Regions from separate parts of the Homo sapiens genome. Here region 2 is linked to region 1. Evidence: fine-mapped expression QTL. Tissue or cell type: whole blood. Region 1 holds a variant in brackets; the other region holds the start of a gene. All regions are shown on one strand. Distances are from middle to middle.

Region 1 (5,820 bases):
ATCTATAAAGAACAACTATAAAGAACAGCTAGGCAATATTTCATAATCAGCATATCTAAATGGCAATACTGATAAAGAAATAAACATTGAATAGTTTTGTCACTGTCATCTATAATTTTATACCATCAGCTCAAAGTGGTGGGTCTGAGCCTTTCTCCAAAATAAAGTTATGGCCATTTTTTATTATTTTTTCTAATTTTAAAAAGCCTAAAAAAAAGTGGAAATAAGATATTTTTTAAAGCCTCTATTTTCTTCTTATAAACAATAAATATTATTTTTTATATTTTCCCATCGTTTGACCCTTTGGTGTTTTTACACATGATCTTTTATCTAGGTTCATTGGCCGATGTCTTGTGAAAATATCAATCTTTTGAGAAATTGCTTTATCTTCTTTCTCATTTTGATTGTTTACTTCTTAAAATAACTTACATAGCTTGTGGTATAGGAGGTAGATACTAAACAAACAATAAAATATGCAAGTAAAATTACAACTGAAATAAGTGCTACGATCAAACCATAGGGAGGTGCATTTCTTCATATCTTTGTATCAAAGAGCAAGGGTTAGCTTTTGGTAAGGTGAGGCTGAAGAGGGAGATAGAGGACAAATTGTGAAAAGACTTGACCAAACGCCATGCTAAAGATTTTGGTCTTCATATTTAGAGCAAATAGGAAGTCTCTGGAAGGTTAATATATGAAGGATAGGGAGGAAAGAGAAACATAATCATTTTGAGTTTCAAAAATATTCTGACCACAGTATAGAGTTGCAGTCTCCAATATGGAGTATACAAGATGTTCCACTGGACAGCAAGGACAAAGTGTTCAAACTTGTACAAACACATATTAAAAACTTAAGCTTCATTAATATTTATCCTAGGGATTCACTTAGTCAGTATGACAGGTGTCATGACTCATTTAGGGTAGCTGAGGTAATGTAAGGAAAGGATGAGCGTTCCACAGTGTTGACTTTCACATATTGACTGTGCCTCTGTTTATGTATGCCAGGTTAAGTAGCTTTATGAATATAGTGCTAGTTTAACTGAAATAATCTTCATAAAATAGACATAATCTTTAAAAGACTGCTGTAAAAAAAAAACCCATGTGATGAAGTAATATTAACATTGTAAGGCGTGGCAATTAAGAAACTTCCCTGGGTTTCTGACTTGCATGACTCCAGTCACTGGAATAAGAGAACTAGGTTTATGTGTATTACATTAAAGACAGTGCAGGGGCCCATGACTTTCGTTTGGATCATATGGGGCTCAGAGAAAAACTGTAAAGCAGACTGTTGGGTGTGAGTGTCTGGAATTTACAAATGTCTATACTAAACATTGAGTTGTCTAAGTACAGGTGGTAATTTAGGATGCATAGGCTTTAATGAAATCTTAACTTTAAATATCAAAATTTCAATTTTTGAGAGCTTCAAATCTCTCTTGATCTGTCTTTTTCTATTGTCTATAATTAGAATTCTATATTTACTCTGATGCTTTTAAAGTTTTTCTAAAGTTAAGGGCAAATGTTTTCAATCTTAGAATTTTTTTTAACTTTTTAAAAATAAGTAAATGTATTAATGCCATTTTACATGGGTGCTTGTTTAAAAGAGGCATTTGAAATCAGCTGTTTCACTTTTTAAAGTATGAAATTTTCAAACATACAGAAAATGAATTAGATAGATATGTACCCACCAGCCACATTTAACAGGTTTATATTTTGCCATATTTGCTTCAGATTTTTTCTTAAAGAAATAAAGCATTACAGAAATAGAAACATATCTACCCTCATCTCTGCCCTCCTCTCTTCCCAGGTGTAACCACTAAACCTGTATTAGAGGTTTGACATTCTAATGCATGTTTTTAAGGAAGAATGGGCTTAAGTTTAGCTATATCAATAGGGATAAATCTTTAAAATAAATGATACAGTTAAAAAATGAAGTTGAATGATACTTTAGTAGTTCACATGGTTAAATAAGAATACTAGTTAACCACAATAGCATTACCAAGGCTAACCAAAACATCACATTTCTTCATTCTTGGTTGGAATTTTTCAACCAGTATTGTATATGTATGTATCAACAATGAACAGAAGCCAGAGATTATTTTTAAAATTGTAGTTTGCTTGGTAGAAGTCTATTAAAACATAAAATTCTTTAACAGTAAAATTTGTACAGGATGCTAAGTGGGTAGGTGTGGTGGCTCACACCTGTAATTCCAGCACTTTGAGAGGCTGAGGCAGCAGGATCACTTGAGCCCAGAAGCTGGAGACTAGTCTGGGCAACATAGCAAGATCCTGTCTCTACAAAAAATATAAAAATTATCTAGTAATGGTGCATGCCTGTAGTCCTAGCTACTCAGGAGGCTGAGGTAGGAGGATCACTTGAGCCTAGAAGGTTGAGGCTGCAGTGAGCCATTATCGTGCCACTGCACTCCACCCTAGGTGACAAGAGCGAGACTCTGTATTAAAAAAAAAAAAAAAAACACCATATGTGATCCTAAGTGAAGTGAGGAAAACACTGGGACAATTTCTGGTTTAGAACATATGCCTGGCTACACAATATTTGAGTCCCTGACTATGGTTAGTTAAATCTGTAAACTTGAGGACATAATTTGTGCTAAACTCTGTGGTTACAAAGATAAACATATGACCTAAACCTTGCTTTCAAGCATTTCAAAGTTGCAGAGCAGAGATATAAACAAATCGTGAAACAGCATCATAAGCATTTTAGTAAAAATGCGGAATGTATAAAGTTCCAAGGGAGAGGGGGCAGTATCTACCTAATTCTGCGTTGTGGATTTCTTTCAGGTTTTGCCATCAATATAACCAACATTTTTGGTCTACAGAACAGTTAACACATAATATTGCAATGCTCTTTTTCAACTGGTTTTTGAGGCACAGAGAAAAGCTCTGTCTTGAACATAGAGCACTGCTGTCCTTCTAAGTAGAGCTTCGGGC[C/T]GGGTGCAGTGGCTCACACCTGTAATCCCAGCACTTCGGGAGGCCGCGGCAGGTGGATCACTAAGGTCAGGAGTTTGAGACCAGCCTAACCAACATGGTGAAACCCCATCTCTACTAAAAATAAAAGAATTAGCCAGGCATGGTGGTAAGCGCCTGTAATCCCAGCTACTTGGGAGGCTGAGGCAGGAGAATGACTTGAACTCAGGAGGCAGAGGTTGCAGTAAGCCGAGATCATACTACTGCACTCCAACCTGGGCAACAAGAGCAAAACTCCATCTCAAAAGAAGAAAAAAAAACAAAGCAGAGCTTTGACATAAGTAACTCCAGTTCTGTGTCATAAATCATCAAGTAGATGAGCACTCAGGTTTTGTGTATGGGAAGCAAATAATTTTTATATAAAAATGAAACAAATTATGAATGACCACTAAGGTATCTTATTCTTTATGTCTAAGATATATTTTATTTTACTTAATTATCCATCAATTTTATTCTCAATTATTAGTCTCAAATTACAAACTTTGATATACACAGTTAATTATATTTCAAACTAAATGTCTAAAAACCTTAGTTCTCAATCACACAAGCCCCTATGTGGGTATATCAGGGCACCAGAGAGTCTGGTGAACATTTTAACTGAGTTCCAAACATTACAATTACACTAGCAAAGTGCTTACCCCTTGTCTCCTCTGAATCCCAGTGCCTTGACCTATATCCCATTCCTAAAGGCCTCATTCTAAATTCACTCTTATTGTCACCTAAGAAGCAGTAGGCCAAATGAAAGAGAAGGATAGAGGAGATGGGGAAGGAGGGTTGGCTAAGGGAGGAAAGGAAGGAAGAAAGAAGAGAAGAAGAAAAGGAAAAGGATTTGAGCTAGAATGCCTACTCTGTCCTTATTTTTTTTAATTAAAAACATTTTGATATGTAATATTTGTACATATTTATAGGACCCATGTGATTCTAAAAAAATTTTTAAGGGTACAAGTGATATTTTGAAACATGCGTACAATGTGTATTGTTATTTAATCTCTGGGGGTCAGTTTTCTCATCTGTAAAATGGGGGTAAAAATACTTTCCCATTCAGGTTTGTAAAGAGTGAATAGACTACAAATAAATTATTTAGTTGAGCACCTCACCACATTGTAGGCCTTTCAAAATAACTATTATTTATTGAGATTTTTATCTTTATGCAGCCCAGAAGCATTAGTAGGCAAAAAAAAAAAAAATCAGGGAAGTCTTTGGATGAAAGAAATTCATACGTAATGATGGAATTGTTAATACGTGTGTCATACAGCAAATGGACGTGAATTCCTCTGCTTCTACCATTTACTGGTTTTATGACTTTGGGCAGGTTGCTTAACCTCTGAGCTTCCTCTACCTCATTCCTTAAATGGGGATTATAATGTTAACAAGTTTATAGTATAAGATTTGAAAATTAAATGAGATAATGTGCACAAAGCACTCAGCACAGTGCCTGCACACAGTGAGGGCTCACATTAACTGCGCCACTTTGCAGTCTGGACTCACCACTCTGCACCTGAGAAACTCCAGAAATCTGTTCAACACCCGAGTTTGCTTTTCACAACTTTTGTAATCTTTTTTTTTTTAGACAGAGTCCCGCTCTGTCACCCAGGCTGGAGTGCAGTAGTACAATCTCGACTCACTGCAACCTCTGCCTCCCGGGTTCGAGCAATTCTCCTGCCTCAGCCTCCCAAGTTGCTGGGACTACAGGTATGTGCCATCATGTCCAGCTAATTGTTTTTTGTATTTGTAGTAGAGACAGGGTTTCACCATGTTAGCCAGGATGGTCTTGATCTCCTGACCTCATGATCCGCCTGCCTCAGCCTCCCAAAGTGCTAGGATTACAGGCTAAGCCACCACACCCAGCCAACTTTTGTAATCTTGAACAAATTGCTGTGTTCCTGGGCCTCCGTTTTCTTATCTAAACACTTTTAGAAAAAAGTGGAAAAGTGAGATAGATGAACCATAAAGCCATTACAGGGATTAAGTAAGAAAATATATGCAAAATCACACATATCATAAAGCCTTATATGAATGTATGGTAGCATTTGATCATGCCAAGTATTCATTTCTTTAACCCTCTCTTCTCTTGACATATGTGGGATATTCTTCTCTTTCTAGCCTCTAAATCTCCATGTTCCCTTAGGTTTCTTCATCAAACTTTCTCTGACCTTGTTGAGTTGACACACTTTCCTCCTGTGCTCTCAATTCACATGGCTCCAGACAGTACCATATGTGAGTGACACCCAAGAATCTATTTCCAGGGCTTCTGTCCCTTCTGAGCTTCTGATTCAAATCCCCACTTGCACATCCCACATAAAATTAAACTTTTCCAAAATTAAATTCACTATCTTCTGCCTTAGAACTCACTTTCACTTCCTCTAATTCAATGAAATTCAAGTCCTATCTAATTAAACTCCTAGTGTCTCAAAATTCACTTTTCTCCTTCTTGTCACAGACCTAATTCAGACCACTACCATCTCACCTGAATTATTCATTGGTGTTTTAGTTCGTCTCCAAGACTGTCCTGAGCCCTCCAACCCATTCTATAGACCACAGACAGTGTGAATGAATTGTCCCCAAGCCAGGGTTAGATGAGCTTCCTTTTCTTCAGTAACAACATGTGTACTCACCCCCATTGCAGTAACAATGATACTCCCCTGCCCATCTATCCCCATACACATACATTCACATTTTATAATTTCCACAAAGAAAAAGACATTTTGTTTATTTTCATTTATTTTTGTGTACCTACTACCCAGCTAACTGCTTCATACACTGTAGTTCTTTTAATGTTTGAATGAATAAACGGAATAAGTTTGAGTGGAGCAGAATTTGAACTCAATTTAATGAATT
Region 2 (5,365 bases), 200 kb after region 1:
CTGTTGAGTATGCTTAAATAAGCCATACATCTGAGGGTTCTTTTTGGGAGAACAGAAATGTCCTAAAACTGATTTATGGTGATGGTTGTATCACTCTGTAAAGTTAGTCAAAAGTATTGAATTGTACACTTGAAACGGGTATATTTTATGATATGTAAAATAACCTCAATAAAGTTGCTAATCGAAATGCCCCTAAACCAACAAACAAAATATCAACATTTATTAGTAATTTTAAGATTCAAGTACACACCCAACAGACTTAAAATGAAAAACAAGACCACATTTACCTAATGCATTTGGTAGATACATATTCTATGCAGTGATCATCAACCTAGGGTCTCACTTTGGAATTACTTGGAGAGTTTGACAAGAAAACACCCATCCCCAGAGATACTGAAATCATTTGTCAAGTCTGTGGTTTGGGTGTCAAGATGTTCCAGAGCACAGCCAAGGTCAAGAACCAGGACTGTAGAGCAGTTTTCCCAGATAACTGCAGGTTGCCCATTGCTATAGAAATCATCCTCATGTTTATTAATTGTTCACGCCTTCTGAAATAGGGAAATCTGGCCATGAATGTACCCTTTTTTTTTTGCAGGGAAGTGGTGTGACTCAGTTTTGTATTCAATGTCTATTCTTTGCACATGGAGGAAAGACACAGTCCTATTCCACCCGTGGGTTTCACCTGTAGTTGCTTCTTGCTGTTGACATCATGGTGGGGCACAGAGACAGCATCTAATTCATCTTTGTCATCTAAGTGTGTTCCCACAGTACTCAACCATAGACTCTGGGTTCTAGGATTGTTTGTTTAACTAAAGGACCAGAATTGAATATATTCCTCTATCTCCTCCTTTGGGGTTTTCTATTACAGTGGGCTGGGAATACAGTTAACAGAACATGTAAAGCATTGTAACTTAATAGTTCAATAAGACACTGAGGGCCACAGTTCAGCTTTAGCTTTTGGACTTGGTGACACCTGTGCTGGATGCTCACAGAAGGGCCTTTTACCTCTTCTGTTTGGGGATTCAATCTAGAGGGATAGAGAGATTCTAGAGCTCTGGCTTCCTAATAAGGGGAGTTTTCTTTAATGAAAATTCCAGGTGTTTTATCTGATTTGCCAAATGAAAGTAGAGTTCAATTCCGAGACCTCAGTTTTATAATCTAAAGACAGGAATTATTAATAAACTTTTACAGTAATACAACATAAAAAGATACAATCTCTGCAGCCTTAACACAGAGAGATTTCAACTCTATTTTGGTTTTTCTTTGGTTTCGGACATAGCCTGTGGTAGGTTGGATGCCCAGCTTTGCTATGTAATTGATGTGTGACTAGCAAGCAAGTTATTCAAACCTGTTTGGTACTTGTTTTCATCCTTTGTAAGATGAAGATGACAACAGCTCCTATGTCATTGGATTGCTATGAAGAGTTAGAGCTATTTGTCCAGGCAGAAGGTAAAGGTTTTGCCTCTCCTCATGCACAGGTGTCAAAGCCACCTTCATTGGGATATTCCCAGTGCATTAGGCAGTTTCTCTGGGAAATCCCCAATTCCTCTCTTGTGTAATACTTGTTTCTTATTAAATACCCGGATGAGTTGTCATCTGGGTCCCTTCTTAAAGACAGAGCTCCAATGACTCCACCTACCTATGCTTACCTGTTTGAAGCAGAAATTTTATCCTCTTCCTGGATTGTTGGTACTGAAAGGCTCAAAGTTGGCTCTCTGGACATACATACGATATCAAATCTCACAAATGCAGTATCAGGAGAAAGAAATATACAAGCGAGACTGTTGCAGGAACTTCCTCATTCTCTGTCTTTTGAAAAAGTCCCTCTCCCTTACAGTAGGGTAAGCTTTCTGTTTATCTTACCAGAAACACAGTCCTTTTACTGTCCCTGGGTCAGTGCTAGAAACTCTTGAACAGCGCATTTATTCATAAACCAGAGCAACATCAAGGAAGCCAGGCAACATCACCTCTATATCCCAATTCTGTCCCTCTTCTCAAAGAATGTCCAACATTTGATTTTTTTCCCTATTTTCTCAACCAACTTGTTTTCACATCTAGAAAAATAATGCCTGCTTTTCCAATGGAATTAGCCCCAGACAAGAAGATACTTAACAGATACAAATGAATAAAGTGGAAAAAAATAAATGGTTGAGGTGGCAGAGGGCAACAAGGCACTGAAGATAGTCATTAATCAAAGCATGCAGGTGGGAGTGCGGAGTCAATGTCCACCCACTAGGTACTTTGAAAGGAGATCTGCTGCCTTACCCCAAGTCCTGGAGCAGCTCAGCCTCTCCATCGGATCTGCTCCACAGATCTGAGGGATCCTGGGTGCTCATCTTCCCTTCTAGAAGTTCTGCTCTGCCCATTCGCGCCCTTCACAGAGGTAGAGAGAGAGACACAACTGGGCTGCTCCTGACACCTTCTCGCTCTGTGAGACAGCAGCCTGCTATGGCTCTGAGTCTCCAAGGCAAGGAAGTGAAACTTGGTTACTTACTCCTCCCACCAACACCACCACCCTGGCCTGGAGGCACTGGCAGGAGTGTTCTGTCAGTCAGGAAGTATGCAAACTTAGGTAGCTACCTCTGAGGACACCCACACTACATCACGCAACAGGCGGTTGCTATCAAAGGAAATGAAGAGGCAACCACCCCACCTGGGATTGGACAACAGTGCAAACTGCTTGTGTGAGGCCAAACCCTAGCTTCTCCCTAATGCTATCAGCCTCTGGTTTGTAGTGGAGGATGCGTGCACTCTTTTACCCCATCTTCTTTCTGTCTTACACACCAACACAGGGAACACTGAGGAAGCTTCTCTATCAGGAACACCTTTAGAGTGGATAGAAAAAGCAGAAGCAAACCACAAATTCGACCCTGAAGTTTGATGTTTTAGCACTTTTGCAATATTTCTGCTTGTTTACCCAGACCTTCTAATATATCCTCAATGCTCCGAATAGGGATGATTCAGAGACAATTATTGTTTCCTCCACAGAAAAAGAATTAGGAGAGGAGAAGGTAGGAAAAAGTTACAAGGGGCCATTCTGGTGCCCACCTAATGGGGCATATTAGAACTCCTGGAGTCTTTTTTTTTTTTTTTTTTTGAGACAGTCTCGCTCTGTCACTCAGTCTGGAGTGTAATGGCATGACCTGAGATCACTGCAACCTCCACCTCCCAGGGTTCAAGTGATTCTTCTGCCTCAGCCTCCCAAGTAGCTGGTATTACAGGCACCCGTCATCATGCTCTGCTAATTTTTGTGTTTTTATAGAGACAGGGTTTCACCCTCAGGTGATACACTCACCTCGGCCTCCCAAAGTGCTGGGCTTATAGGCATGAGCCACTGCACCTGGCCTGAACTCCTAGAGTCTTTGAGTGCCACTTCCTTCATGGGCTTACTCACACCTGCATGGCTTTGTGCCCAGATTCATATGTAGAGCAGGATTCTATCTGCCTGGAATGCTAAAGGTAAATTGCAGTGACTGAATCCTTGGGAAGTGGAACAAAGTGCAGTATCAAATGAGTCAAGGACATATGTTGCTTCCTGCCTTTTCTATGTACCTACAGGTCTCTCTCTCCCTCTCCCTTTCTCTCTCTCTCTTCCTATCTCTACTCCCTGACTCATTCAGCACTCACCACAGTGCTCTGTAACTTGTTCTCACAGTGTGGCCTGAGGACTAAACAGCACAGCAGAACTGTTCCTAAAGGACTAGATGATTGCAAAAGGCTGCTGTGCAATGGTTCTATCCTTCATCTTCCTCCCTATTACCACTGTTCACCCGGGATCGGTGAGACCCGGGTAACACTGGTTGCCAGTGGGAAGTTCCTGAGTGTCTGGAGGCAGTCTGCTGAAGACTAAGCTCTGATAATACATATATAACTGACTAAATGAGCACTTAAATTCTTTTGGCTACAGTTTGCTCACAGAGAAGGACAGGGCCCACTTGAACAGAGAGGCCAGTGCAGGCCAGGGAGATACTGAATATGCATACAGCAGTGACAGGGGAACAGCCTGGGCACTAGAGTTCCTGTTCCCTCTCTAGAGCCCTTTATTTGGTGTTTTAGTATCTATTTCATTCCCATTTTTAGCAAATTCTGGTTGTTCTTTTTCTTAACTTTTTTGGAAGTACAAGTAGCAGAATTTTCTAAGATCGTCCTGCTTTTCTGGCTGAATCTTCCTGCCTTTTGCCCTTCCTCATGTTGCTGTCCTGTCTGTTGCCCTCTCCTTTGATGTCATTGTCCCACTTTGTCATTTACTCAATTTTTCACAGTATCCCTACCACCCCGCCCACTCCACTAACTACACACTTAGTTTTGCAGTGGTAACAGCTGCAGGAGGCTTGCTAGATAGTTTCAACAAAATGCTGGAGCCCATCCCTCCCGGGACATCTATTGCTGTGTAACTGAAAGGGGATTTAGAATCTTGTTCTGGGCCGGGCGTGGTGGCTCATGCCTATAACCCCAGCACTTTGGGAGGCCGAGGCGGGTGGATCACCAGGTCAGGAGATCGAGACCATCCTGGCTAATACAGTGAAACCCTGTCTCTACTAAAAATTCAAAAAATTAGCCGGGCATGGTGGTGGACGCCTGTAATCCCAGCCACTCAGGAAGCTGAGACAGGAGAATGGCGTGAACCCGGAAGGCAGAGCTTGCAGTGAGCTGAGATCATGCCACTACATTCCAGCCTGGGCAGCAGAGTGAGACTTCGTCTCAAAAAAAACAAAAAACAAAAAACAAAAAACCTTGTTTTGGAACCAAGGCCAGCATCATGTCTGTTCTTATCCTTCAGTGCCTGTGGCATGCTAGTTGTATATTTAACAGGTATATTGAGGTACAATTTGTATATCATAATGTTCATTTTCCTTAGGTGTACAATAATTTTGAGTAAATTTGCAGAGTCGTGCAACCATCATTGCAATACAATTTTAGAATGGTTTTTATCACCCCAGAAGATCCTTTGTATCTGTAACAGTCTAAATACCACTTCTGTTTTTAGCTCTACCTGAAATTATATAGAATATTTGCTTACTTGTGGCAAATTCTCTTGATGGATAGATAGTAGATAGATGATAGATAAATAGATAGATAGATAGATAGATAGATAGATACATACATACATACATACATACATACACACATACATCTCCCAACCCACATGCTCTTCTGCAATGTGACCTTGCTGCTCCCTGTCAAGAGGCAGCACCTAACTCCCCTCCTTTGAATCTGGCCTGGCCTCTGTGATTCACTTGTGACCAATAAAATGTGGTGGAAGTGACACTGGATCACTTCTGAGGCTAGGTCAGAAGAAGCCTTGCAGTTTCTATTGTGGTCTCTTGGAAGGCTCACTCTCCAAATGTTACTTTCAGGGGTTCCC

What was found. PIP is the estimated chance that this variant, and not a neighbour inherited with it, causes the effect.
Region 2: DAPP1 starts here. The variant in region 1 is fine-mapped to the expression of DAPP1 in whole blood (TOPMed, PIP above 0.99).

What each region holds. Positions count from the first base shown.
Region 1 is chr4:100,013,230-100,019,049 of GRCh38, reverse strand. All of the region lies in intron 1 of H2AZ1-DT (H2AZ1 divergent transcript), which reads right to left. Among named protein-coding and RNA genes, the nearest start is that of H2AZ1-DT, 66 kb to the right of the region's middle. The variant C/T (reference allele first, on the strand shown) is at 2,947.
Region 2 is chr4:99,813,915-99,819,279 of GRCh38, reverse strand. It overlaps DAPP1 (dual adaptor of phosphotyrosine and 3-phosphoinositides 1), which reads right to left and starts at 2,453. Exons shown (of 9, transcript NM_014395.3): 1 at 2,266-2,453. The coding sequence starts at 2,366.